3 separate regions of the Homo sapiens genome follow, and regions 1 and 3 are each linked to region 2. Evidence: fine-mapped expression QTL. A gene starts in region 2. Each other region holds a variant in brackets. All regions are shown on one strand. Distances are between the middles of the regions. Region 1 overlaps KIF21B (kinesin family member 21B). Region 2 holds the start of GPR25 (G protein-coupled receptor 25). Region 3 overlaps INAVA (innate immunity activator).

Evidence for each region. PIP is the estimated chance that this variant, and not a neighbour inherited with it, causes the effect.
Region 1: its variant is fine-mapped to the expression of GPR25 in whole blood (INTERVAL, PIP above 0.99).
Region 3: its variant is fine-mapped to the expression of GPR25 in whole blood (INTERVAL, PIP above 0.99).

Annotation. Positions count from the first base shown.
Region 1 is chr1:200,968,303-200,976,467 of GRCh38, forward strand. KIF21B (kinesin family member 21B) reads right to left here. Exons shown (of 35, transcript NM_001252102.2): 33 at 7,197-7,367; 34 at 6,412-6,611; 35 at 1,088-5,276. The coding sequence ends at 5,219. Among named protein-coding and RNA genes, the nearest start is that of KIF21B, 51 kb to the right of the region's middle. RefSeq lists an enhancer at 2,773-2,952. The variant G/A (reference allele first, on the strand shown) is at 4,955.
Region 2 is chr1:200,869,551-200,877,724 of GRCh38, forward strand. It overlaps GPR25 (G protein-coupled receptor 25), which reads left to right and starts at 3,431. Exons shown (of 1, transcript NM_005298.4): 1 at 3,431-4,628. The coding sequence starts at 3,488. The coding sequence ends at 4,573. RefSeq lists an enhancer at 3,483-4,125.
Region 3 is chr1:200,901,347-200,909,520 of GRCh38, forward strand. It overlaps INAVA (innate immunity activator), which reads left to right. Exons shown (of 10, transcript NM_001142569.3): 6 at 6,488-6,541; 7 at 7,384-7,594; 8 at 7,878-8,051. Among named protein-coding and RNA genes, the nearest start is that of INAVA, 11 kb to the left of the region's middle. RefSeq lists a silencer at 4,587-4,706. The variant T/A (reference allele first, on the strand shown) is at 4,768.

The DNA.
Region 1 (8,165 bases), 99 kb after region 2:
TCCTACAGACTCCAGGAATTCCCTGGCCAGAGCACCTGTCACATCCATAAGTCTGGACAAACAGCAGGGGACCTGCGCAGGCTGAGGAAGCAATTTGGTTTTATATTTGGGAAACAAAGCAAAGAGAAACCCTATTATATTCCTGATACAAATATCAGGAAGTTAAGCTTTTTAATCAGTTGTGGCTGGTGATGAAGATGTGGATTCTCCCCGAGGGGCCTCTCTGCCCAGGGGATGGGCCGGAATCTCCAGGAGTTGGTGAAACAATTCATGGTTATCAAAAGGGAATATGGGTTCTTAAAGACTGAAAAGCACTGATCTAGGACAAAAATCATGGTGAGGCACAGTGACTCACGCTTGTAATCCCAGCACTTTGGGAGACTGAGATGGGAGGTAAGGCTTAAGCCCAGGAGTTCGAGACCAGCCTGGGAAACATAGTGAGATCCCATCTCTATTTAAAAAGAAAAGAAAAGACCTTTGTAGAGCTCTTTTCTTGTATGATCTTTTTATAGTCTTGCCTTCTTTCCATAAGTGGCAAGGGACCGAGATGCGTTTGGCGTGCACCACGCACAGCGTAGTCCAGGCCCTAGAGAGGTACGTGTTACGTTAGCAAAAGGCAAAGGCTGCTGTGGTTGGGGAGGTCTAGATGCAGATCCTGGCTCTGTCCTTACTAGCTGTGATCCTGGGAAAGTCACATCCATCCCGAGACCTTTCTCATTTCATAAAATGAGAATGTCACCTGTCACACAGGGCAGTGAAGACACAATGAAAAATGCTCTGAACAGTGCCTAGGATATAGCAGTTGGTCCACAAATGCTGCTGCCCACTCTTCCAGCAACTGCACCTGCCTCTGGAGACAACATATGGAGTCTGGAGGAGAATGTGACGCTCTCAAAGCTCTCTGCTTTCTAACTGGTGAAGCCCCAAACTCACAGCTCAGGAAGTTCTCATCAGGCTGGGCCCAGCCCCAGAGGCCTGCTGCACCCATTCACCCACCCACCCACCACCACCACCAACTCCCTCTCCAAAGGCCCCAGCCAAAAGTCAGCAGCCCCCTGGAAGGGGACAGGGGACACCTCCACAGACATTGGTCATTCAGGTTTTATTTATGACAACTTCTTAGAACACACACATCCAATCTAGGAACAGAAATGTACAACATGGGGCTTAAATAACTTTCATACACTATGTACAGCCATCGGCAGAGGTACAAAACATATATACACCTTGTGCTAGTCACATCATGGAGGACAGCAGGAGCCTAATGAAGCCTGCAGCCTGGGCAGGACATGATTGCTAGAAAAGAGTTGGTGGGCAGGGCAGGGCCCTGATTCATCTCAGGGGTCTTCTCTGATCCTCGGCTCTTTGTGGAGGAGTTTCTATTTCCTACTTCCCTGCAAGGCCCTCAGGACATGGTTCACAGGACTGAACTAGAGTGTGATAGGGGCTTCAAGATCATGAGTGCTGGGGATGGGGCAGGGGACAGAACAAAGGTATCAAAGAAGAAACAGAACTTTCCCTGCAAAATCTGTCCTTGCACACAAGAGGGCAGGGAAGGATCTGGGAGTCAGGAGAGGAGGGCCAGGCCCAGGAAGGCCTGTGGGGCATTGGCCACTGACCAGGAGGCTATGCCAAGCAAGGAGAGCAGCAAGCAGTTGCCTGTTTGGGATGGCAAAGGGACACATACCACAGGTCCGGGACACACAGTGGGAAGAAAGTCACTGCTCCTGCAGGGCAGGCTCTGCCCACACAAACACGATGGTGAACAGACCAGGCACAGGCAACAACCAGGGGATATGCCTGCTCCCAGCCCAGACCACATCGGGGGATGCCCCCCAGAGCTGAGAGCTAGCAGGGCAAAGAAGTGTTATGTTCCCTAACGTCACTGCAGCCACCTGCTGGTGTCTCCCTCCACCACATCAGGCACATGAGAAAGTCCCCGCAACCTTGTGTTTTCCCCATGTGGTTTTGTGCTTTAAACTGCCCTCTGCCCAGGCCACACATCCCCAGACAGGCAGCAGGGCTGGACAGCTGAGGGTGAAGAGATTCCTAGGCTGAATCCAGGGTGAGGCCACTCCCAGACCCACCGCTGTCCCTTCCCAAGGGGCTGAAGGTGGCACTCTGACCACCTCAAAGGCTTGGGTGTGCCAGGCTCCGCCTGTTAATCTTTCCTCCTTCCTTGGAAATCTCGCAAGGCAACTCCATGCGCTGCCTTTGAGAGTTCTGGCTGCTTCAGAAGAGTCCGCCACTCACGTGAAAGCAAATACTGAACTGACTGATAGTGAGGACAGGGCCCTGGCACAGGACTATGCTGAAGAGGCCCAAGGGCAGTGGGGATGGAAGACTCCTTCTATCCAGGGAACCCGCTCATAAGCTTCGAAAGCACAAAGTGGGGCTTGACCCAGGAGACTGGGAATCAGTCCAAGCTCTTCAGGCTCACTAGGGCTAGGACTCAGCCTGAACTCAGGCGTTTAGAGATTTGGGGTGCGGGGTTTAGAGAGCGCTTTACTCCTGGTCCCATGGCGTAAAGATGTGGCTGGGCCTGACAAGGCTCAGCCTCCAGTCTTAAGATGGGCACAGAAGGGCAAGAAGTAAGATGACGAGTCCCAGAATTAGGACAAGCCATGAGCCAAGGCCTGGTCTGAGCAAGGGCAGCCCCCTGTCCCAGACACAGGCACCCCCAATCTCACTTTGGACAGAGCCAACGTGGGGGGATCCTCCCGGGCCTGGGCCTGTCAAGTCTGCCTGCGGGACCCTGCCATTGTGCTCAAATCACAACCATTTTGTGCTTCCAACATTTAGGGTGCTTGTGCAGTGAGTGGAGCTGGGGGCCTGCCCCCTAACATGGACCTTGGACATCCCTGAAAGAGTGGGCAGAGAATCCAACTCTCATGAAGCACAACTCGGGGTGTCTCATGGATGTTGGGCTCAGGGCTCCTGAAGGACTTCAAGTTTAGAGAGTCAATGACACTTGCCAGGACAGCAGAGCTGGCCCCGCCGTGAGGTAGCTGACCCATCAGAAACAGCAGAAAATGGGCATGATGATGAGCACCTCTCGCAGGGCCATAAGATCACACTTCGTGCAAGAACACGCCTTGCAGCTACAGTGCAGTCACCCCAGGTGGGGCATCCCCGGCCCGGGGGTGGGAGCTCAAGGGGACAGAGTCTTACGTGTTTCTATCGCTTGTAAACAGTCATGCGGACGGATTCTTTCTTACAGGTTGCAAGGTCAAAACTTTCTGTTCAGGTTGGCGGGGAGGAGTGGGAAGAGATTTGTGGCCACATCTTAGAGCTAAGGGGGTTGCCCGGCACCCCCGGGGTGGCCAGAGGAAGAAGGATTTCCAGCCATTGCTGACAGACTGTTCAGGTCCCAGGAGACCAGCATCCAAGGGGGTCTCCTTCCTGCTATCAGCTGCCCCAGACTTCAATACCACATCCAGCAGGGCCAGCACCAGCAGGACAGCCGTCTTAGCCTCTGTGGCAGCTCCGAGGAGGGCACGGGGAAGGGACCAGGCCTCACTCAGCCTCCACTGGAGCCTGCCTCCCCCCAACACTGGGCGCCACATGGAGAGGGCTCCAAGTGCCCCAGCCCAAGACGGAGAGGAGCCAAGGGCAGAAACACAGAACCACCTCTGGAAAGTCCAAAAGTCACTGCGTCCTCTGAAGGGAGGTGGGGCTGGCTCTTGGCTCCCAGACTGAAGCGGGAAGCACAAGACCAGCGATGCAACGGAAAAACAGGGTGGGCAACTTTGGGTGGGGGTGGGGCGGGGGAGAGGGATGGAGCTCAGTCCCCCCCAAGGCCCACTCCTGTAATTCCAGAGTTCCCCCAACAGGGGGCGCCAGAACACTGATTTAACAATTTCCCCGGAGCTCCGCGTCCCCAGCCCCGGGGCAGAGAAACTCTGCCAACTCCCTCTTCCTTGATAATTTTCTGCAAGGGAGGGCCTGCGCTCCATGCCAGTTTTAAGGCCGAAAATGTGTCTCCTGAATAACCAGAGAGAGAGAAGCTGGAGAGACTCCCCGGCCCAGTGGGGGACTGCAGGGCTGGGGAGGGGCGGGGGTCAGGGTGCCGGGCTGTCCTCCCCATCCAAGCCACCTCCCAGCAGACACAGCCCCCATGCTGCTTCCTACGTGGCCCACGCAGGACTGTGGGGCAGAACCCCGGGGCCTGGGCTGTGGGGTGAGCGCCCCCGCCTTCCCGGGGGCGCTGGGCACAAGACCTCGCGAGTGAGAAGACACATGTGGTGCCGCGGGCATGGCTGGTGTAAGGCTGCCCGGCACGGGTGCCAGGCCCCGGAACGGAGGAAGGCACTGAGCGTCAGGCGGCCTAGAGGCCAGGGGTAGCTAGAAGACTCCCTGGGGGCTGTGTCGGGGACAGGCCTGAGCTGCAGAGTCGAAGGAGCAGTTCCCTCCTCTGCAAAGCAAACAGAGGAGGCGGCCCTGGAGGGCCGGGGCAGCGGACTCCCTTTGGGATTTCTGGCCCCCAAGAGCTGAGGGAAAGAATATAGGGGAAGAAACTTCAAGTCCGTTTCCAGGAGGCAACAGCAAAAAATAAAAATAACAAAATAATAAATAACTGAAGTATTTCTGACCATCTCCCCAAAGGAATCTTTCTAGCAGCTCCACCTTGGCCCCATCCAAAAGGGACCCCAGGGAACTGTTGGGGCCAGTTGGGGCTATCTGCGGGTTGCCAGAGGGTTAAGGGTTAGCTGCAAGGCCCAGCCGCCCACACCTGGTTTCCTTAGCTACCTGAGGACTTATCTTTTTGGGCTCAGAGGCAGGTGCAGTGGCTCTAGAGGCTGGGCTGGGAGAAGCGGGGAGGCCAGCTCCTCGGAAGGGTGGGATGGGGCCAGGCTGCTGCACCTCCCCACAGGGCTCCACCACTGGGCCAAAGGCCTGAGAAAGGGGCAGAGCCGGTTCAGCAGGAGACAATGTGGCCACGACTGCCAGGAGG[G/A]GAACAAGAAGGGATAATGCCCTTTGGCTTCACAGCTTAATTTCCTCCCCAGCCTCTCTCTCACCCAGAGGCTCCTGAGAGGCAGGGGAGGGATGAGGGAACAGTGTCCTGTGGGAAGGCCAAGGGAGAGGGAGGAGGGCAGGAGAGGGGGCCACGCCCTCTGTCCCCAGAGCAGCTGGCCCCATCGGCCGGGTCACAGCTTCCCTTCCATGGTGTCCAGGCTGCTGGGGTCGAGGGTCCGGGGGCATCCCTCTGACCTCACTCCTAGGGTGGGCCGCTGTGGGGTAACCGCCGGACACTCCAGAACTTCACCGTCAGGTCACTGGGGTGGAGGACAAAGTGGAGGGGTGCCGGTCAGCTCTTGCAGTGGGCTTGGCTGGCTGCCCCCAAAAGTAGAGGATGAACTGGATTCCCCAAACTCCCCAAATGTGGTTGGGGCTGGGAGGCAAGCATGGCTTACGGGGAGGTGGACTGCAGGTGGTGGGGTGCTGGGCAGATGGAGAGGCCTGTGCACTCAGAGGCCCCCAGGGGAGCTTTGTCATGGGTTTTCTTTTTTTGGGGGGGTGTTTCGTTTTGTCCAGGCCTGAAGGCTCCCCCTTCTGCTCCCTGGCACCCATCTCCTGGGGCCTGTCCCACTGTTCATGCTTGGAAAAGGACGGTGGGTGCAGGAGGGACAGGCAGGGCACCTCTCTAGGCCAGGCAGGACAGGAAGGGAAAGGAAGAAGAAGGAGTAAAATAATCTCATACCGTTAAGAAGCAGCTCAGATCGAAGTGGGGAAAGAGAGGGAAAAGGAAAGAGGGGAAGAATGAAAGAGGAGACAGGGAGAGTTGGGGAGGGTCAGGGCAGGGTGGTGGCGCGGCCCTTTATGGCCAGGACTCGGCGAGGAAGGCAGGGGGTGAGTCCAGGGACGTAATTCCACAACTTTACCCGGCAGTCACTGTGTGGGGAGAGAGGCGAGGACAGAGAGGAGAGGTGGGAGGAGATGGGAAGGGGAGGGGAGAGAAGGGACAAAGTCGGAACAAGAAAGAAAGCCATCTGAGTCGCACCCCATGGGACAGAGGGCCTGGCTGCTCCCCACACAGGGGGCCAGAGCGGGTGGGTGGGGTGTAAGAGGCGTGGTCTGGGGCTGGCAGGGCTGCTCTGTGCTCTGAGAGATACCTGCACGGGGGAAGACAGCCAGGGCAGGGGAGGGTAGGAAGGGCTTGGAGACAAGCGGGCGAGGCTTGGCCCAGGGCCCAGTACCTTCCTCCTCCCCTGCCTAGCGCAGTGCCCAGCACATGGTGGGCACTCACTGAAGGCTGGCACAGGCTAGGTATGCAAAGGAGGCCACCATGGAATCTGCTCTGTGAACCGAGCCTGCGGGGACAACTGCAGGGCCCTGAGCCTCCCAGCCTCCCCTGCCCACACCAGGAAGGAGATGAGGGAGCAGAGGCAGACCTCTCTGACCAGCACCCACCTGGAGGCTGTGAAGATATGCTTGGCATTGGTGCAGATGGCATTGATGGGACTGTCGTGGCCCTTGATCTCACCGATGGGTGTGAAGTTGTCCACGTTCCAGACCTTGATGACACCCGCACGGCAGGCGCTGAGCAGCATGGGGCGGCCCGGGATGAAGGCCAGGGCGCACACCCAGTCCTTGTGCGCATTGGGGATTTGCTGTGAGAGGATCAGGGCTGGTGAGGGCTGGGGGAGGTGATGAGGGAGAGAACCTGCCCCAGGGCCCCTCTTGCTAGTAGTGGAGCTACTTCCAGGCTCCCCTGGCCTCTAGAGCTGCCACACGGGCGGGTGACACTGGTTCCAGGAGCCATGCTGGGGTGGCCTGTGCTGTGGGCTTTAGGGGACCAGAGATGGGTCCCTCTGCTCTACTTCCCAGGTTCAAGCCTAAGATCCTGCCCTGGCAGAGAACCCTTCAGCCCTCACACGGGTCAGGCTAAAACACAAATGCTCCCAGGAAAGGAATTGGGTAACTGAGCTTCACATGCAAACCCAAGAGCTGAGAGCAAAGGCTTTGCTGAGAGCAGGTTGCCTAAGAGGGAGATGTGGCATCAGGAGAGGCCGCGGGTAGGGAAGAAGGGAGGATGGAGACAGAGGAGGAAGAGGGAGAACAGGAGGGCTTGGGGAGCTGTGAAAACCATCTGGCCTGGGGCCCGCGAGTCCAGGTCCCAGGGTCTCCAAGGCCCTGCGTGGGCTATGGAAACCACCCTACCCGAGTCTACCCTCTCCCTTTCCTCCTGACCCCACCTGGATGAGCTCCTGCTGGTCTAGGTCCCACTTCTTGATGCCGTTATCTCGGGAGCCACTGAACAGGATGTCTCCCTGGATGGCGAGACACTCGATGCCATCGTAGTGCGGGGGCTCGAAGTTGTGAGTGGGGCCGATGGTGCCCGTCACACACTCGCCCAGCTCGAACATCTGTGGGAGGAGGGGCCAGTAGGGAGAGGCCAAGTGGGAGGATGGAAGGCAGGGCCTACAGCACTGTGGACCCAGAGGCCTGAAGACCCAGGAGTCTGGCTAGGGTGACAGCCACTGCCCTCTGGGGAGAGGAGCTTCCCAGCAGGCGAGGGTTCCTGGAGGTGGGGCTGCTCCTTCTAAGGGACTGGGAACACGGAAGGTTCAGATCTTGACCCTTCCTGTGGATACTGGGGCAGGGGTGGGAGGAGACCAACTCAAGTAATGCAGGGGTGAATCAGCTCATCACGCCGAGACCCCACAGCTCAACAGGCAGCTGCTAAGGAGAAGGGTGGGTTTAGGGTGTGAGCCTCCCTCTAGAATTCTTTTGATTTTTACTAAATATTCACCATAATCCCACCACCCCTGAAAACCCTACTTCTTTCCAGTTTCTTTTTTGTTGGAGACTGAGTCTCACTCTGTTGCCCAGGCTGGAGTGCCGTGGTGCAAACTCGGCTCACTGCAACCTCTGCCTCCCGGGTTCAAGCGATTCTCCTCCCTCAACCTCCCAAGTAGCTGGGACTACAGGCGCCCGACACCATGCCTGGTTAATGTTTTGTATTTTTAGTAGAGACAGAGTTTCACCATGTTGGCCAGGCTGGTCTCAAACTCCTGACCTCAAGTGATCCTCCCACCTCAGCCTCCCAAAGTGCTAGGATTACAGATGTCAGCCACCACGCCTGGCCTGCTTCCTTTCAGTTTCTGACTGTGTATGGACAGTTTTCAATGGCATAATCAGAGAGCAAACAAATTAGTGTTTGT
Region 2 (8,174 bases):
TAACAGTTGCCCTGGCTCCAGCAGTGCAGAGAGAGGAAGTCCTCTTAGGGATGGAGGTTAGAGAAGGCTCCCAGGGGTGGGATGGAGGAAGAGGGAAGACTTCTTCTGCTTTGTCCACACCTGTTAGAGAGCATGGCCAGGATTCCCAGCCTGTAAGGGTGAGTGTTTCTATTAGTTGACTTGTGTGTAATCCTGTGGGGAGTCCTCCTGAAGGGTGAAAGAGCAGTCTTGTGAAGTTGGCCTTGGTCACTGAAACCGGGCTGGGCACCCCAGGAGACCGGGCCTAAGGCAGTGTCCCTGGCTCTGACCTTTGCTGTTTCTTCTCATCCAGACAAGTTCAGTAAGGCCCATGGACAGCACCCAGGCCTCAGCAGAGAAAATTCAGCATATGCTCTGGGCCACAGACTTCCCTTGGGTATGAGATGATGGCCCAGGAAGCAAGTAGCTCTGTGATTTTTAAAATAACCTACTTCTACTTCCCCTCAACCCCCTTCCTATATTCCCCTCTTGGTCTGCTTGCCCCATTCTTTGTTTTCACCCGGCGGCTTCTCTGCTGTTCATCTCTAGCTTTCAGGATCACTCACACTCTCTGAGCCCGCAGACTGAGGTGTGCCTGAAGGGGTGAAGTCCAGCAACACTGGGTCTGTCTCTGATGGTCTCTGGGCTCTGGCAGGCAAGCACTGCCCCTGCTAGCCTTCTAGGGGAGGAGGCTGCAGCCCCCTACTCCACCCCGGATGTGGGCACCGCTCACCAGCAACCACATGCTCAGACATTAGAAAAGCGGCTCTGGGGTGGGTCTTCAGGGGAAAACCAAGCCCGGAGGCTGAAAAGCCAGTGAAGGGAAGGTCCAGACCATTCATTCCCTAGGCTCTTCTCTTCCCTGCCCATCTTGTAATTGGTGTGGGAGAAATTCTTGACAGGAGCAGCCTAAACACTGCATACCCAACCCTCTGTGAGCTCTAGGACCATTTTCTTTTTGAGATGGAGTCTCGCTCTTTCACCCAGGCTGGAGTGCAGTGGCTTGATCTCAGCTCACTGCAACCTTTGCTCCTGGGTTCAAGCGATTCTCCCACCTCAGCCTCCTGAGTAGCTGGGACTTGCGCGTACCGTGCCCGGCTAATTTTTGCATTTTTAGTAGAGACAGGGTTTCACCATGTTGGCCAGGCTGGTCTCGAGCTCCTGACTTGAAGTGATCTACCCACCTCGGCCTCCCAAAGTGCTGGGATTAGATGTGAGCCACTGCGCCCGGCCTCTAAGACCATTTTCCAAATCCTTCCTGGGGATCTCCGTGTGCCAGAGGGACCCTGAGCGAGGGTGACCTTATGTCCCAGTTTGCCCAAAATAGTCCTGGTTTACGGCCCAGGTTAATTCTGATAGTGCCCCTTTCACTCTCAGAAACATCCTGGTTAGATGATAAATTATTTCATGACCCCACTTCAACATCAAACTGAACACATACACACATGTGCCTCTCTGTGTTCTTGGCAGTTAAGGGGACAGCGTCCATATAGTCCCTAAGCAGAGAAACCCCAGGCTTATCTTTGACTCCTCTTTGTGAGACCTATGATGTTACAATTATCTCTTGAATATACCCTCCCATTTCTGTCCCCACTGCTCATGATCTATTTCAGACACAAATAATTACAACCTACTATGGGGTCTCCCTGGCTTGAGCCTCTCCCTTCTCCATAGTTCTGCCAGCGATCTTTTCAAAACACAGATCGATGCCTCCTGGCTCCCCATGACCTATAGATTGAAATCCAAATCCCCTCATGATCCTTTCCTGCTTCATCTCCTGCCCCCACCTTCCTACCCTGGGCTCTGGCAGACTGCTTGTCCCCTGAAAAGCCCACATTCCTACTCATTTTGGTATACTTGTTCCCTTTACTCCCTCCTCCGAGTCTGACCCTTTCTTCTCTTTTCTGCTGCTCTTATTTGACTTTCAGCTCCTTCCTGGGACTGATCTCAAGTGTCATCTCCTCGAAGGCCTTTTCTGATTCAGCCCTCCCGTCAAAAATAATCACTCCCCCTCCACTAAACCCTAAGAGGGCTTGGTTTTTAACATTTACTACAATTTGGCCCCTGCATAAGATTACATAAGATTCTGCTTATGTAACCATCTCTCCTGCCTATGCAACAAACTGCGAAGGCCAAGAATGGCATCTCTTGCAGTGCCTGAAACAGTGCCTGCTTCATGGAGGAGTTCATTGTTAACAAGTCTTAATCGAACAAAATTGATAATCCACCTCAAATTTTCCACACCGGGTTGCCCGGCACATCAGCCACTCATACCTGGGAACACTGGGGACAGACTCAGAGGGCACTGTGACATCAGTTCTACCACAATATCTTGTGGAAGGGATATCTGCTAAGAAGAATTCAGATGTAAGTGGCTGCATGCCTCCTTCAGGAGAAAGAGCAAGCTTTCCCTCACCCATCCTCTCCTCCTTAGGTCCCACTGCCTCCTCAGGGTCAGACTTCATTCCCCCTCGTCTTTATGAATCCTCCCCTTACTCTCAGTTTCTCAGTTCAGAAGGGATCTTGCTGCCTCCAAGCTCCTGACTCATAATTTAGGACAACTAATCTGGTGTTTCATTAGGTGTCATCTTTTGAACTGAGCTTACATCTGTGTCTGGCTTGACAGGTTTTTTAGGATAGGAGAAGACAGGGAAGAGGCAGATGTGAATCCCAGGTTTCACCCCTTTCCAGCAGGATGATCTGACTACACCCCTTCCTCGCTGCCTTAAAACCCTTTCGCGTGGCTTCATGAGGACCTGACTGGGTCAGAGAAGCCACTCATAGGGTGAAGACATGAGCCCCACATCTCAGGACGCTAACAACTGCTTGACTGCCCAGGGCGGGCTCCCCCACCCACCCAGATCTGCTGTGTCCCGGCAGTGGAGTCTTTCCTAGGGAACAGGTGGATTTGGGGTGGGGCGTGCCTTAGGCCCCATACTCATAAAATCCCGGGGCTCTGTCTTCTCACCTCTAAAACAGAGAAGACAGCAGCCGGTGGGTGCAGGTGGGAAGGGGTGAAGTGGAGGCTGAGAAGAGGTTAGGGCTCTCGGGCACCCACCACCTCTTGCAACGCGACCCTGAGACAGTGGGGCAAGTATCCCGATTTCACGAACAAAGAAACTGAGCAACTAATAGAGGAATGGGCCACGCTCCTACTGGGAGGCCGGGCAGGTCTCCCAGCCCTGAAGACTTTTCCTCCCAAGATTTAGATGTGAAGCCCCTTTTGCCTGTCCCTGCCCTTACCCCTCGGGTCAGCCCCAAATCGGAGGCCACCATCTCTCTCACAGAAGCCTGCCCCTCCCACCCCATCCCCTCCTCCCTCCCCTCTTTCCTGCCCACCCATTTGCCTCCGGCTTGGGTGGCAGGAAGGGAGGTGCAGGGCCGGGCGTGAAGAGCAAACCCCCTCCTGCTCAGAGCTGCTGCCGCCTGCGCCCAGGGCTGCACTCCGCGCAGGCCTCATAGCCAGGCCATGGCCCCCACAGAGCCCTGGAGCCCCAGCCCGGGGTCAGCGCCCTGGGACTACTCGGGGTTGGACGGCCTGGAGGAGCTGGAGCTGTGTCCGGCCGGGGACCTGCCCTACGGCTACGTCTACATCCCCGCGCTCTACCTGGCGGCCTTCGCCGTGGGCCTGCTGGGCAACGCCTTTGTGGTGTGGCTGCTGGCCGGGCGGCGGGGCCCGCGGCGGCTGGTGGATACCTTCGTGCTGCACCTGGCGGCAGCTGACCTGGGCTTCGTGCTCACGCTGCCGCTGTGGGCCGCGGCGGCGGCGCTAGGCGGCCGCTGGCCGTTCGGCGATGGCCTCTGCAAGCTCAGCAGCTTCGCGCTGGCGGGCACGCGCTGCGCGGGCGCGCTGCTGCTGGCGGGCATGAGCGTGGACCGCTACCTGGCCGTGGTGAAGCTGCTCGAGGCGAGGCCACTGCGCACCCCGCGCTGCGCGCTGGCCTCGTGCTGCGGCGTCTGGGCCGTGGCGCTGCTGGCCGGCCTGCCCTCCCTGGTCTACCGGGGGTTGCAGCCCCTGCCTGGGGGCCAGGACAGCCAGTGCGGCGAGGAGCCCTCCCACGCCTTCCAGGGCCTCAGCTTGCTGCTGCTGCTGCTGACCTTCGTGCTGCCCCTGGTCGTCACCCTCTTCTGCTACTGCCGCATCTCGCGCCGCCTGCGACGGCCGCCGCACGTGGGTCGGGCCCGGAGGAACTCGCTGCGCATCATCTTCGCCATCGAGAGCACGTTTGTGGGCTCCTGGCTGCCCTTCAGCGCCCTGCGGGCCGTCTTCCACCTGGCGCGTCTGGGGGCGCTGCCGCTGCCGTGCCCCCTGCTGCTGGCGCTGCGCTGGGGCCTCACCATTGCCACCTGCCTGGCCTTCGTCAACAGCTGCGCCAACCCGCTCATCTACCTCCTGCTGGACCGCTCATTCCGAGCCCGGGCGCTGGACGGGGCCTGCGGGCGCACCGGCCGCCTGGCGCGAAGGATCAGCTCAGCCTCCTCGCTCTCCAGGGACGACAGTTCCGTGTTCCGTTGCCGGGCCCAGGCCGCGAACACTGCCTCGGCCTCCTGGTAGCTGCCCCGGGCCGCTGGAGGTGGGCGGCAGCGGAGCATCGAGAGGAGGCCAGAGGTCCCGGAGGGGACTGAGCTCCCCAGACGCGCCTGTTCTGGCGGCAGCAAGCTGCTCGGGCCGGCATCGCATTTCCTCGCGCGCTGCCTGGACTCCCAAGGCCTCCTCCATCGGTTTCCCCGGAACCTCAGAACAATTGAACTCCCCTAAACCAGGCTCCTGTGACTAGCTGTTCCCTCTCAGCCTGCAGGGTACCTGAGCTAATTTTGTCCAGTCCAAGATAGGTGCTATGAGATGTAGCAGACAGCAACTCGGAGACCCGCAGATTCACCAAGTAGACAGAAGGGAAGTGGGTTTCCTTCTCTGTCCCATCGGGAAGAGAACCCACCAGAATATCTAACCCAGACCCCCAAATGCCATTCTGATTTCTGGCTGTGCTTTCTCCCGTCTCCCACAATAGCCGTTGCTTTCAGAGAAATACCTTCTCCAAGTCAGACCCCCTGCCCTTCTCACTCACAAAACCCTTGCATTGAATCTGGTGACACTTCTCCCCCTGTGAAGCGGCAGGACTCACCTGGAAGTTGTTCTGGTCTTTCCCTCTGGACAGAAGGTCCTGAAATCGCTCACCAGGCGTTTTTTGAGGTCTCCATCACTCAGCCAGGAACCTCAAAATCTCTGTGAATTCATCTTTCTCAATAAACACTCTTGCTAGCCCTGTCTTGACAACCGTCTTTGCTTGAGCAGTGGGAGTGAAATGCATATCAGGAGGCGGGTCGTACACTGGGTGAGACAAAACTCAACACAGTAGTTGAGGTTGATCTCAGGATGATGAGGATTTGGGGTGGTGTCTGGGAGCATGAGAGCTGGCTGCACTCTGCAGGTGCAGTAATCCCACAGGAGGAAGCAAGTCATTTATTCTTATTTTTAAGGACATTTCACATTTTGAAAATTACCGAAAGAAAATATATTTATATAAGGGCATCTGCCAGCCAAGTGTCACTTCCAAGAGAAGATGTGTCATTTTGGATTTTCAAATATATACCAGGCCCCCCCTTTTTTTTTCTATCTTTTTTCAGACCTTCCAGTACAAACTTGGAGGATTAGCCATTTTCTGACTCTGTCATTTCTCATTTGAGGTTTCTGTAGGGTTTGGAAATTCACTGTTTATACTTTTGATTTAAGAGGATTTGGCCTAAAGACATTTCAGTCAGTGCACATCCTAGCCAGATCCCCACAGGCCAGTCTTGATGTTGCAAGCTCTGGGGGAACGGGTGGGTGTGCACGCACATCAGCACCTCAGCACTAGGTTGGGTCTGAAGGCTGGCATTCTGTCGCAGGCTATCCATCCCATCCCCCCATCAAATACCCCTGTATTCTCTTCAGCATTTGGAGCTGCTTGGATTGAACATCGGCTCTCCTAGGTCAGCCTGCCAAAAAGTGCATCTCTGCATGTTCCTACCATATACTCCAAGAGAGGCAAGCCTTGCAGCCTGTGAGGTCACCTCTGCCAGCAGGACACATTTCAGGCACTTCGGTGTTTGAGAGTTCAGTTAAGTCTTGGCCCTTCCTATCCTCACGATTGCTCTCCGAGGCAAGAAATTATTTTTTCATGGGGCTGAGACCCCAGAATTTTCAGGGCAGGGAAGCTGATTCTCATCTGGGTTTGTGTGTGACAAGATCTCAGAGTACAGAGGAGGCACTTTTCTAGGCTATTGGGACTGAGCCCCCACCTCCACCCCTGCCAAGTTGCTGCTTCTGACTTACTGACTAGTTGAGTTCCCTGAAAACAGACAGGAAGAAAGAAGACTTCTCCATGCCCTGGTGGGTTTTCGTCTCCCCTCCTGCAGTAGCTATTGAAACTCAGCATTCCCCTCCTGCTGTGGAACTCTGCAATGTGGAGAGACAGTTTCCGCCCTTTGTTTGAGTAGATCACGGAACTGGTCTACCATGTGTCCTTTGGAAATTTTCCCTTAAATTCAGACAAAAATGAAAGAGGATCAGTGAGCTCCCATCTCCCACTGGGGAAGATGAGGCTCAGATTCATCGAGGAACTGGTTAAACGAGCATTCCCACATATGTGGCTGGTGAGAGTAGATTCCTTTAGAAAGCAATTGTCAATCTTCATCAAGAGCTTTAGAACTTTTCATATCCTGTTTATTTAAAATGTTTATACCCTTCGACCCTGTAGTTTTGCTTCTGCCACTCTCTTCTAATGCAACAGTACTAAATTTAAACGATTCTGCACTGAGTTATAGAAGTTTTTTTGTTTTGTTTTCGTTTTTTGTTTTTTTGAGATGGGATCTTGCTCTGTTGCCCAGGCTGGAGTGCAGTGGTGTGATCTCGGCTCACTGCAACCTCCACCTCCTGGGTTCAAGCGATTCTCCTGCCTCAGCCTCCCAAGTAGCTGGGAATACAGGTGTGCACCACCACGCCCGGCTAATTTTTTGTACTTTTAGTAGAGACAGGGTTTCACCATGTTAGCCAGAATGGTCTCAGTCTCTTGACCTCGTGATCCACCCACCTTGGCCTCCTGAAGTGCCGGGACTACAGGCATGAGGCAGTGCACCCTGCGGCTGAGTTAGAGAAGTTTTTAAAGAGTTAAACCTGAAAGGAAACAACAATGTCCAACAACAGTGTAATGTTTTTATTAAGATGAATGACTATTATGCAAATTTAAGATGCTCTTTAAAGAGAGACTGAAAAATGTTGACGGATAACTTAAAAGGGAAAAAAAGGTAAAATTGTGTCTGTTAAACACACCCACACACTTCAAGTCTGGAGGATGTAACATGGTTAGCACTGGTTTTGTTAAGTAAAACATAACATGCTTCATAGTCCTTTTGATGAAAACGATCTTTTGCTCTTTTATTTCTCATAGCTCAAGCTTTGAACACTATAGGTATATCTCTTTTATCTAGGTGCTAACTAATGGAATGCTGTCGATTTATTTCTTCGTTTCTTGCTTGTCCCTCCTGTCAGGATGCAAGCTCCATGCATGCAGACGGTTTTGTCTGTTGGTTCAAGGCTGTGTTCCCAGTGCCTGGAGCATGCCTGCACATCTCAGGCACTCACTAACTACCTGTTGAATGAATGATCATCAGGACCATGTCATGATATGAAATAATGTCATAGAATGTGAAGAGTAAAAGGAAGGCTATTGCATTTTATGTGTAACAGCTATGGATTGTTAAAGGACTTGCAAAAAAAGGCTAGGAAGAAATACAATAATCATTAATGATAATGATTGTGTATGATTGTGTTAGAGTAAGTGGATTTTAGATCCTTTTTCCCCTCCATTTCTTTACTTTTAAATGTTCTATGAGCTTTTTTTTTTTTTTTAAAGAGACAGTCTTCCTGTGCAATCATAGCTTGCTGCAGCCTCCACCTCCTGGCCTCAAGTGATCCCCCCACCTTGGCCTCCCAAGGTTTGCTAGGATTACAGGCATGAACCACTGTGCCTGGGTTTATAAGCTTCTTTTTTTTTTTTGAGACAGAGTCATGCTCTGTCACCCAGGCTGGAGTACAATGATGGGATCTCAGCTCACTGCAACCTCCTCCTCCCTGGTTCAAACAATTCTCCTGCCTCAGCCTCCCAAGTAGCTGGGAT
Region 3 (8,174 bases), 32 kb after region 2:
TCTCCGTCTCCTTAGAAAACACCCTACTCTCTCCTTCCGTATCCTCCTCAAAATACACTACCTTCAAGAGACTTCCTACACAGAGATATTTCTCAGCTGACCCTGAGCTGAATCCAAGGTGTATTCAACTGGGTAGCCCAGGCTGGCCCCGCTGCCCTCCAGGCCCACAGGGTGATGGCATCTCTGGGTCAGGGTAGTGTGAGGCTCCCGTGAGCCCAAGGCTCTGAGTTGATGTGTAGTCCCCTGGCCTGAGTTAGGCAGCAAAGGGTTTGACGATTGCTATGTGTTACTGATCACTGAATTGTTTCAGGGGCCCACAGCTACTTAGGAGATGTTCAGGTTGAAATCCAGCAGGACTGGTGCCACACCCCACAGCCCCTTAAGTATCTACAACCACCCTGGTCAAGGGTGGGATCCTTCCATGTCTGTTCTCTGCCCTCCTTGTGTCTGTAGTTCAATCCCTGAGCTCCTTGGCCCAGAGACTAGTGGCCGTGGGGGCACCTAGTGAGTTGTTGATGCCCAGGTGCTGCCACATCACATCAGTGTGTCCACCACAGGTTAGCTTCCAACAGGTGGTTCTGAGCCCTTAGGTGTGACTGTTTTCCTTTGTCCTGACCCAAGGCCAGCCTGTCAGGTCAGGACTTGCATCTCTCCATTCCAAACCCCACCGCAGCAGGCCCATGACTCAGCTCTGCCCCCCGTCTCTCACATGGGACCCAGACCTCCCTGGCTGCCTCAGAGGGAACCGGGAGGGAATGAGGCCGTGGCCCTGCAAAAAAAAATCCAGAATTGGATTCAGAGGTCTCGGCCTTCATTCACATTCTCAGGCTCCCATCCCTGCATATCGTGTTGGCTTTTTGCCAAGACTACTCCTCAGCCTGGGAGCAGTCATGGGGAAGCTGGAAAGCCCTTGCTAGTCCCTGTGCCCTGCAGCCTATGCCTCAGGCAGGGAGTTATCTCAGCACAGGTCTCAGAAGTCCCTGCTCCTATCCATGGCTTTTAATTTAGGGTAGAAAGTGCATGACCAGACACCACCCAGGTCACCTCCCGCAGCCAAGAGTAGGTGATAAAGGAGGAGGTGCCTCCATGTGACAGTTAACCCAGTAAACTCAGAAGACAGTGGGGCTGACCCAGGGAAAATGGCCAGACCTCTGTCCGGTTCCAGTGGTTCTGGCTTGGCCGCAGAACAACACTCCCAGTCTCTGAGGCTCTAATGGAAGACAAGTTCTACAACCTTACTCCACTCTCAACAGGGATCCCAGGACTTGACAGCAACCTTGAAAGGTAGCTGCTGAATTGGACATGGAAGCCCCTAAGGGCCAACTTGCTCTGTGCCTGCAGGGAGAGGTCAGGGTGGTGAGATATGCCCGTTGGTTGCAGCGCCTCCTGCTCCCCGGTCCAGCCTCACACTGCTCAGCAGCCTCCCCTGCCCACCGGGGCTGCCATTGCTGGGAGCTTCTGCCCATGATGGGTGGCAGGGGAGTGTCACCCTGATGCTGCCATTGTGACCCATAATGCTTCTTGTTGGGAGTCGGGAGCAGGCCAGGACTGGCCTGGGGCTCTGTGGAAGGCAGGAGGATGAGGTTCTGAAACCTTGGAGCCCTCAGTACAGGTGAAGACAGAGCTGTGGAGAGGAGACAACTGGTGTAGTTGCTGACTTTCCCACATCAGGAATCAAGATCCCACTGGCCAACTTCAGGCCCTGGGATCTAAAGTCCTGTTGTGAGAGCACAGAAGGGATCAGTTCTAGACAAGTAATTTCTGTTTTGTGGCTCCTCTGCCCAGCCGAGCCCTCCTAGAAAGGAGGAAGTAAAGCAGAATTATTAGTAGCTGAGGTGTTTTGAATTAAAAAGGGAAGGCCGGACACTGTGGCTCATGCCTGTAATCCCAATACTTTTGGAAGCCAAGGTGGGCGGATCATGAGGTTAGGAGTTCAAGACCAGCCTGGCCAACATAGTGAAACCCCATCTCTACTAAAAATACAAAAATTAGCCAGACATGGTGGTGCATGTCTGTAGTCCCAGCTACTCGGGAGGCTGAGCCAGGAGAATCCCTTGAACCTGGGAGGTGGAGCCCAGGATCAAGGGAGCCGAGATCGTGCCACTGCACTCCAGCCTGGCAACAGAGTGAGACTTTGTCTCAAAAACAAAAAACAAAACAAAACAAAAAAACAGGAGGCCAGGTGCAGTGGCTCACACCTGTAATCCCAGCACTTTGGGAGGCCGAGGCGGGTGGATCACTTGAGGTCGGGAGTTCAAGACCAGTCTGACCAACATGGAGAAACCCCATCTCTACTAAAAATACAAAATTAGCCAGGCATGGTGGCGCATGCCTGTAATCCCAGCTACTCGGGAGGCTAAGGCAGGATAATCACTTGAACCCAGGAGGCGGAGGTTGCGGTGAGCCGAGATTGCACCATTGCACTCCAGCCTGGTGACAAGAGCGAAACTCTGTCTCAAAAAAAAAAAAAAAAAAAAGGGAAAAAAGCAAACAACCCAAAAACCGAAATAAAAAACCACCCTGCCCCCTTGGGCTCCATACAAGGGTAATTTAGTTTGGGAAAGTAACTGCTAGGTGAGAGTCATCAGCCATACTTTGCAGTGGCAGGGAGCAGTCAGGTGTTGAGCTCATTTACTAGAGTGAACCGCATGAGGGCCACCCAGCACCCACCTGTGCAATGTAATAGGCACTCTGGATGCATCTGTTGATCAACAACACCAGCCATTAGCCACATCCTCATAACATTTTTTTTTTTTTTTTGAGACGGAGTCTTGCTCTCTCATCCAGGCTGGAGTGCAGTGGAGCCATCTCAGCTCACTGCAACCTCCACCTACCGGGTTTAAGCGATTCTCCTGCCTCAGCCTCCTGAGTAGCTGGGACTGCAGATGCGTGCTGCCACGCCCAGCTAATTTTTGTATTTTTAGTAGAGATGGGGTTTCACCAAATTGTCCAAGCTAGTCTCGAACTCCTGACCTCAAGGGATCCTCCCGCCTTGGCCTCCCAAGTGGTGGGATTACAGGCGTGAGCCACTGCGCCTGGCCGCTCATAGCATTTCTGAGATGGTGGAAGTGTTCTGTATCTGTGCTGTCCAATACAGTAGCCACTCGCTGCATGTGGCTATGGAGCATTTGAACTGTGCCTAGTGTGACTGAGGAACTGACTTTATTTAGTTTTAATGAAAATAGCCACATGCGGCTAGTGGCAACTGTGTTGGACAGCATAGCCTTGGGGGAAGCTCAGCATTTGTGAGTAAAATCTCCACCGTTACCCCTCTGTCTGGGGTGTCCTGCGATGCTGCTGCGGGGCAGGGGAACGCTGAGCTAGGGCAGGGTTGGGACAGTTGCTGAGATAGTGAGCAGCTCTCAGAAACCTGAATCTTTTTTTTTTTTTTTCCAATCTTTTTAGAGACAGGGTCTTGTTCTGTTGCTCAGGCTGGAGTGCAGTAGTGTGATCATACCTCACTGCAGCCTTGAACTCCTGGGCTCAAGTGATCTTCCTTCCTCAGCCTCTAGTAGCTGGGACTACAGTCATGTGCCACCACACCCAGCAAATTAAAACAAAACAAAACAAAAAAACTATTTTAGAGATGGGATCTTGCTATATTGCCCAGGCTGGTCTCAAACTCCTGGTCTTAAGCAAACCTCCTGCCTCAGCCTCTGGAGTAACTAAGATTATAGGTGTGCCTGGCCCAATGAAAATCTTTATTCCTAAGGTTTTTATAAAAGATCAAAGGCAGGAGACCAGAATTCAGTAAGAGGGGGTCTCTTTAATTGAACCCTAAAGCAAAGGCTACTTGTGAGCCAAGCAAAGCATGGGCTGGCTGGCTACTCAGGAGTCAAGCCCAGCTCCTGGTACCGTATGTCCTAGAAATCTACTGCCTGCTCTGGGTAAAGATTTTTTCATTAAATTGCGGAGCAGGCTGAGCATGTTGGCTCAAGCTTGTAATCCCAGCACTTTGGGAGGCCAAGGCAGGAGGATCTCTTGGGCCCAGGAGTATGAGACCTGCCTGGACCACACAGGGAGACCCTGTCTCTACAAATAACTAAAATAAAAAAATTGGATAGGCATGGTTGTGGACACCTATAGTCCCAGCTACTCAGGAGTCTGAGGTGGGAGATTGATTGAGCTCAGGAGGTCAAGGCTGCAGTGAGCTGTGATCGGGCCACTGCACTCCAGCCTAGGCAACATTGTAACAACCCATCTTTAAAAAGATGGGTTAAACCTTTGTGGAGCAAAGGTTAACAAACTTTTCCATAAAGAGCCAGACAGTACATATTTTAGTCTTTGTAGGCTCTTTGGTCTTTATCACAACTGTTCAACTCTGCTACTTCAGTGCTAAAACAGCCAGACATTACATAAACAAATTCATAGCCGTGTTCCAATAAACATTTATTTACAAAAGCAGCTATTGAACTGGATTTGACCCCTGGGCCATAGTTTGCTAACCTCTGTTGTAAGGGATTTCAAGATGGTTGGAACTTTTTACTTTTTTTGAAACTTCCTGGGCAATGCCCATGCATTTGAGATGCAAGCTCACAGGGGAGAGCCCATAAAGGGTTGTGGTTAAGAGCAGACTCCAGTCAGACTGTCTGGGTGTGAATTCTGACTCAACCACCTTTGTTGAATGTATAACCTAAACCACGTTACTCAACTCCTCTGAGACGTGGTTTCCTCAACTGTCACTTGCAGGTGATAATATCTACCTTACGTGGTTGTTATGAGAATTACCTGAATTAATATATATAAAGTGCTGTATTTAGAAATGTA[T/A]TGGCACAGTAGAAACATTAGCAATTATTACTTTTTCCTCATCTTCATTCTCAAACACAGTTGAAAATGTTTCGTGAGTTCCATCCAGGTCACTTTAGGCTTATTCTCAAGATCTGAAGGCCTGGCCGGGTGTGGTGGCTCACGCCTGTGATCCCAGCACTTTGGGAAGCCGAGGTGGGTGGATCACCTGAGGTCAGGAGTTCAAGACCAGCCTGGCCAACCTGGCAAAACCCCGTCTCTACTAAAAATACAAAAATTAGCCAGGCATAGTGGTGTGTGCCTGTAATCCCAGCTACTCGGGAGGCTGAGGCAGGAGAATCGCTTGAACCTGGGAGGTGGAGGTTGCAGTGAGTCGAGATCACACCACTGCTCTCCAGCCTGGGTAAGAGAATGAGACTCCATCTCAAAAAAAAAAAAAAAAAAAATCTGAAGGCTTAAGTTTCTTCAAAAGCAATAGCACAAATGAGTTCCCTCTGATTTCTTAGGTAAAAAGTGCTGCTATACCATGAAGTAAAGTCACACTGAATTTCCTTCAGGTGACTTGCCAGATCACCAACTGAAGAAACTTCCCTGGGGCCAGCTGGCCAGACCTTATCTTAAATTCAAATTCCTACCTTGCGTTCCTCTTGTTGTTGGTAACACAGGAGGTCTCACATTGGGATCTTTGAATTGTGTTTGTGATGTGAGATGATTATACAAAAGTTAGAGTGAAATTCCCTTTTTTTTATTTGAGACAGGGTCTCACTCTGTTGCCCAGGCTGGAGTGCGGTGGTGTGATCACGGCTCACTGCAGCCTCGACCTCCCAGGCTCAAGTGATCTTCCCATCTCAGGTTCCCAAGTAGCTGGGACTACAGGCATGCACCATCATGCCTGGCTAATTTTCGTATTTTTTGTAGAGACCAGATTTCACCATCTTGCCCAGGTGGGTCTTGAACTCCTGGGCTTAAGCCATCTGCTGCCTTGGCCTCCTAAAATGCTGGGATTACAGGCATGAACCACCGCGCCTGGCCATGAAATTCTTTTTATCCTAAGGGCCTTCCAAAATGACCCTTTGTCTTTCCTTTCCACTACCAAGAAGCCCTGCCAGAGGACACCCTTTTTCTTTTTTTTTGACAGGTGGGGAAACTGAGGTCTAGAGCATTGAAATGGTTTATTCAAGGTTGCATAGCTAGTATCAGAGTCAGGATTAAAATCAGGTTTCCTGTCTCCTAGCTCTGCCTTCTATTTTTTTCTACTTCCATGTAGTAAGTTTACAGCCAGGCCAGGCACAGTGGCTCATGCCTATAATCCCAGCACTTTGGGAGGCCAAGGTGGGATGATCACTTGAGCCTAGGAGTTCAAGATCAGCCTGGGCAAGACAGCAAGACCTCTTCTCTACAAAAAAAATAAAATAATTTAGCTGGGTGTGCTGGCATGCCCCTGTGGTCTCAGCTACTTGTGAGGCTGAGGTGGGAGGATCCCTTGAGCCTGGGAGGTCAAGGCTGCAGTGAGCCATGATCACACCACTGCACTCCAGCCTGGGCCACAGGGTAAGACCCTGTCTCTTAAAAAAAAAAAAAATCACTCCCAATGTGTATTTAGCACACAGAGGGTATTTCCTCATAACTGATGCTGTCCTGGGGGAGTGATCAGGCCTGAGCTGCTCAGCACTGCTGGTTACTCATATCTGTTTGTTCATTTCTTCACTTCCTTCTCTTCTCTCCCCTTTGTCTTTCGCAGAGCTCAGTGCCTCTGATGACAGCTCCCTGTCAGATGGGCTCCTCCTGGAGGAAGGTGAGAAGGACGTTTGGGGGACTATTGTCAAGGCTGGACTCCTACTGCAAGACCATGGGGTTTGGGCAGTTTGCTGGTGTGGAATTTAAGTGGGAGTGAAGGCTAGGGTGCCAGGCTTAGGGTTTCCGCTTGGACTTCATGTCAATTTCCGCATGTCCTTGCACATGCTCAGTTGAAGATGGGGAATGTGCGATCATCTCCCATTCTGGAAGCTCATTATTTTTACAGGGAAAGGAAAGGTGAACTCCAAGAGAGCTGATCAACCCCAGATGTCCCTCCTTCACCCTTGGGTGTGATTTCAAGATGCACCAGTCAGAGCCAAAGAGCAATCTGCCCACAATCATTGCTGTTTTTTAAAAGAAGGGAGCAGGAAGGAAACACAAGTCTATAGATTAAGAACCCTGTGTACAAACCATGAGGATGCCAGGGTCAAGGTGGATCGAGAAGCTGTTGCAGTCCTGCCCAGGGGAGTGCCCAAGCCAATAAGGAAATAAATAGGCCATATGGGCATGGCAGGAACAAGAAAAATAGGTAAACAAAAGATAACTGCAGACATGGTACCAGGAACAAAGGTTAGAAAGTGGAGCACTGTAAGCCCAAGAGAGTCAATCTGGGAGGCTTCTTGAAGGAGGAAGGCATAAAATAGGGCTGTGTGGGAAGAAGTAAGTCCCAAAGGAGAAGAAAACATGTTTGAGCATCTAGGGCTGGAGCCATGGCCTGCAGCAGCTGCACAAGCCAGCATGGGAGGGAGAGCGGCGAGGCATGGGCTGTGGTTTGTGGAGGTTCTTGTTGGGCCGGTTCCCCCAGCCTCTGGCCTTACCAGGTTTCTTTTACTCCTGCAGAGGAATCCCAAGTGCCAAAACCTCCTCCAGAGTCTCCAGCCCCACCTTCTCGGCCTCTCCCACCCCAAACCCTTGAGGGTCTGCAGCCAACAGGACCTGAGGCTGGGAGCCCAGAACGGGCTCCAGTCCAGAACAGCCCCTGGAAGGAAACCAGCCTGGACCACCCCTATGAGAAGCCCAGGAAGTCTTCTGAGCCCTGGAGCGAGTCCAGGTCAGGATCAGGGGGAAGGGAGAAGGGCAGGGCAGGGCAGGGAGTCGGTGGGAGCTATGCTGGGGATGGCTATAGGCTGGGCAGATGGAAAAGTGGAAAGGTGGAGGAGAGAGCTCCTGCAGTCGTGGGATGGAGGTGTGAGCCTTGATAGTTCCCCAAGGGTGCTGGCAGTTTGCCCTACTAACTTTGGGAGCCCCTTCCACTGCATCCCCATTCTTCTGCACCTCTTGAGCCCCTGAATGGAGGCATTCCTGCCACTGACCTGTCTCTAATCCTTTTGCAGCAGCCCAGCCACCACACCACAGGATGGGCCCAGTGCCTCCAGCCTGTGGCTTCTGGAGCCTGCCTCCTACCACGTGGTTCCCATCCGTGGTGTTCCTGGCCAGTGGCAGGGCCGCACCAGTGCCCCAGCCACCCCTGAGATACAGGGGAGGAGGGGCCAGTCGCAGTCTCTGAGGTAAGAGACAGCTTCCCCAGAGAGATGGGGGACCCACTTAGAGCTTATCGTTGGAGGGTGGGAGCTCCCAGGACACAGGTGGGACAACCCTGGGTGACACATGGCTAGTGCCTTGACTTCTCT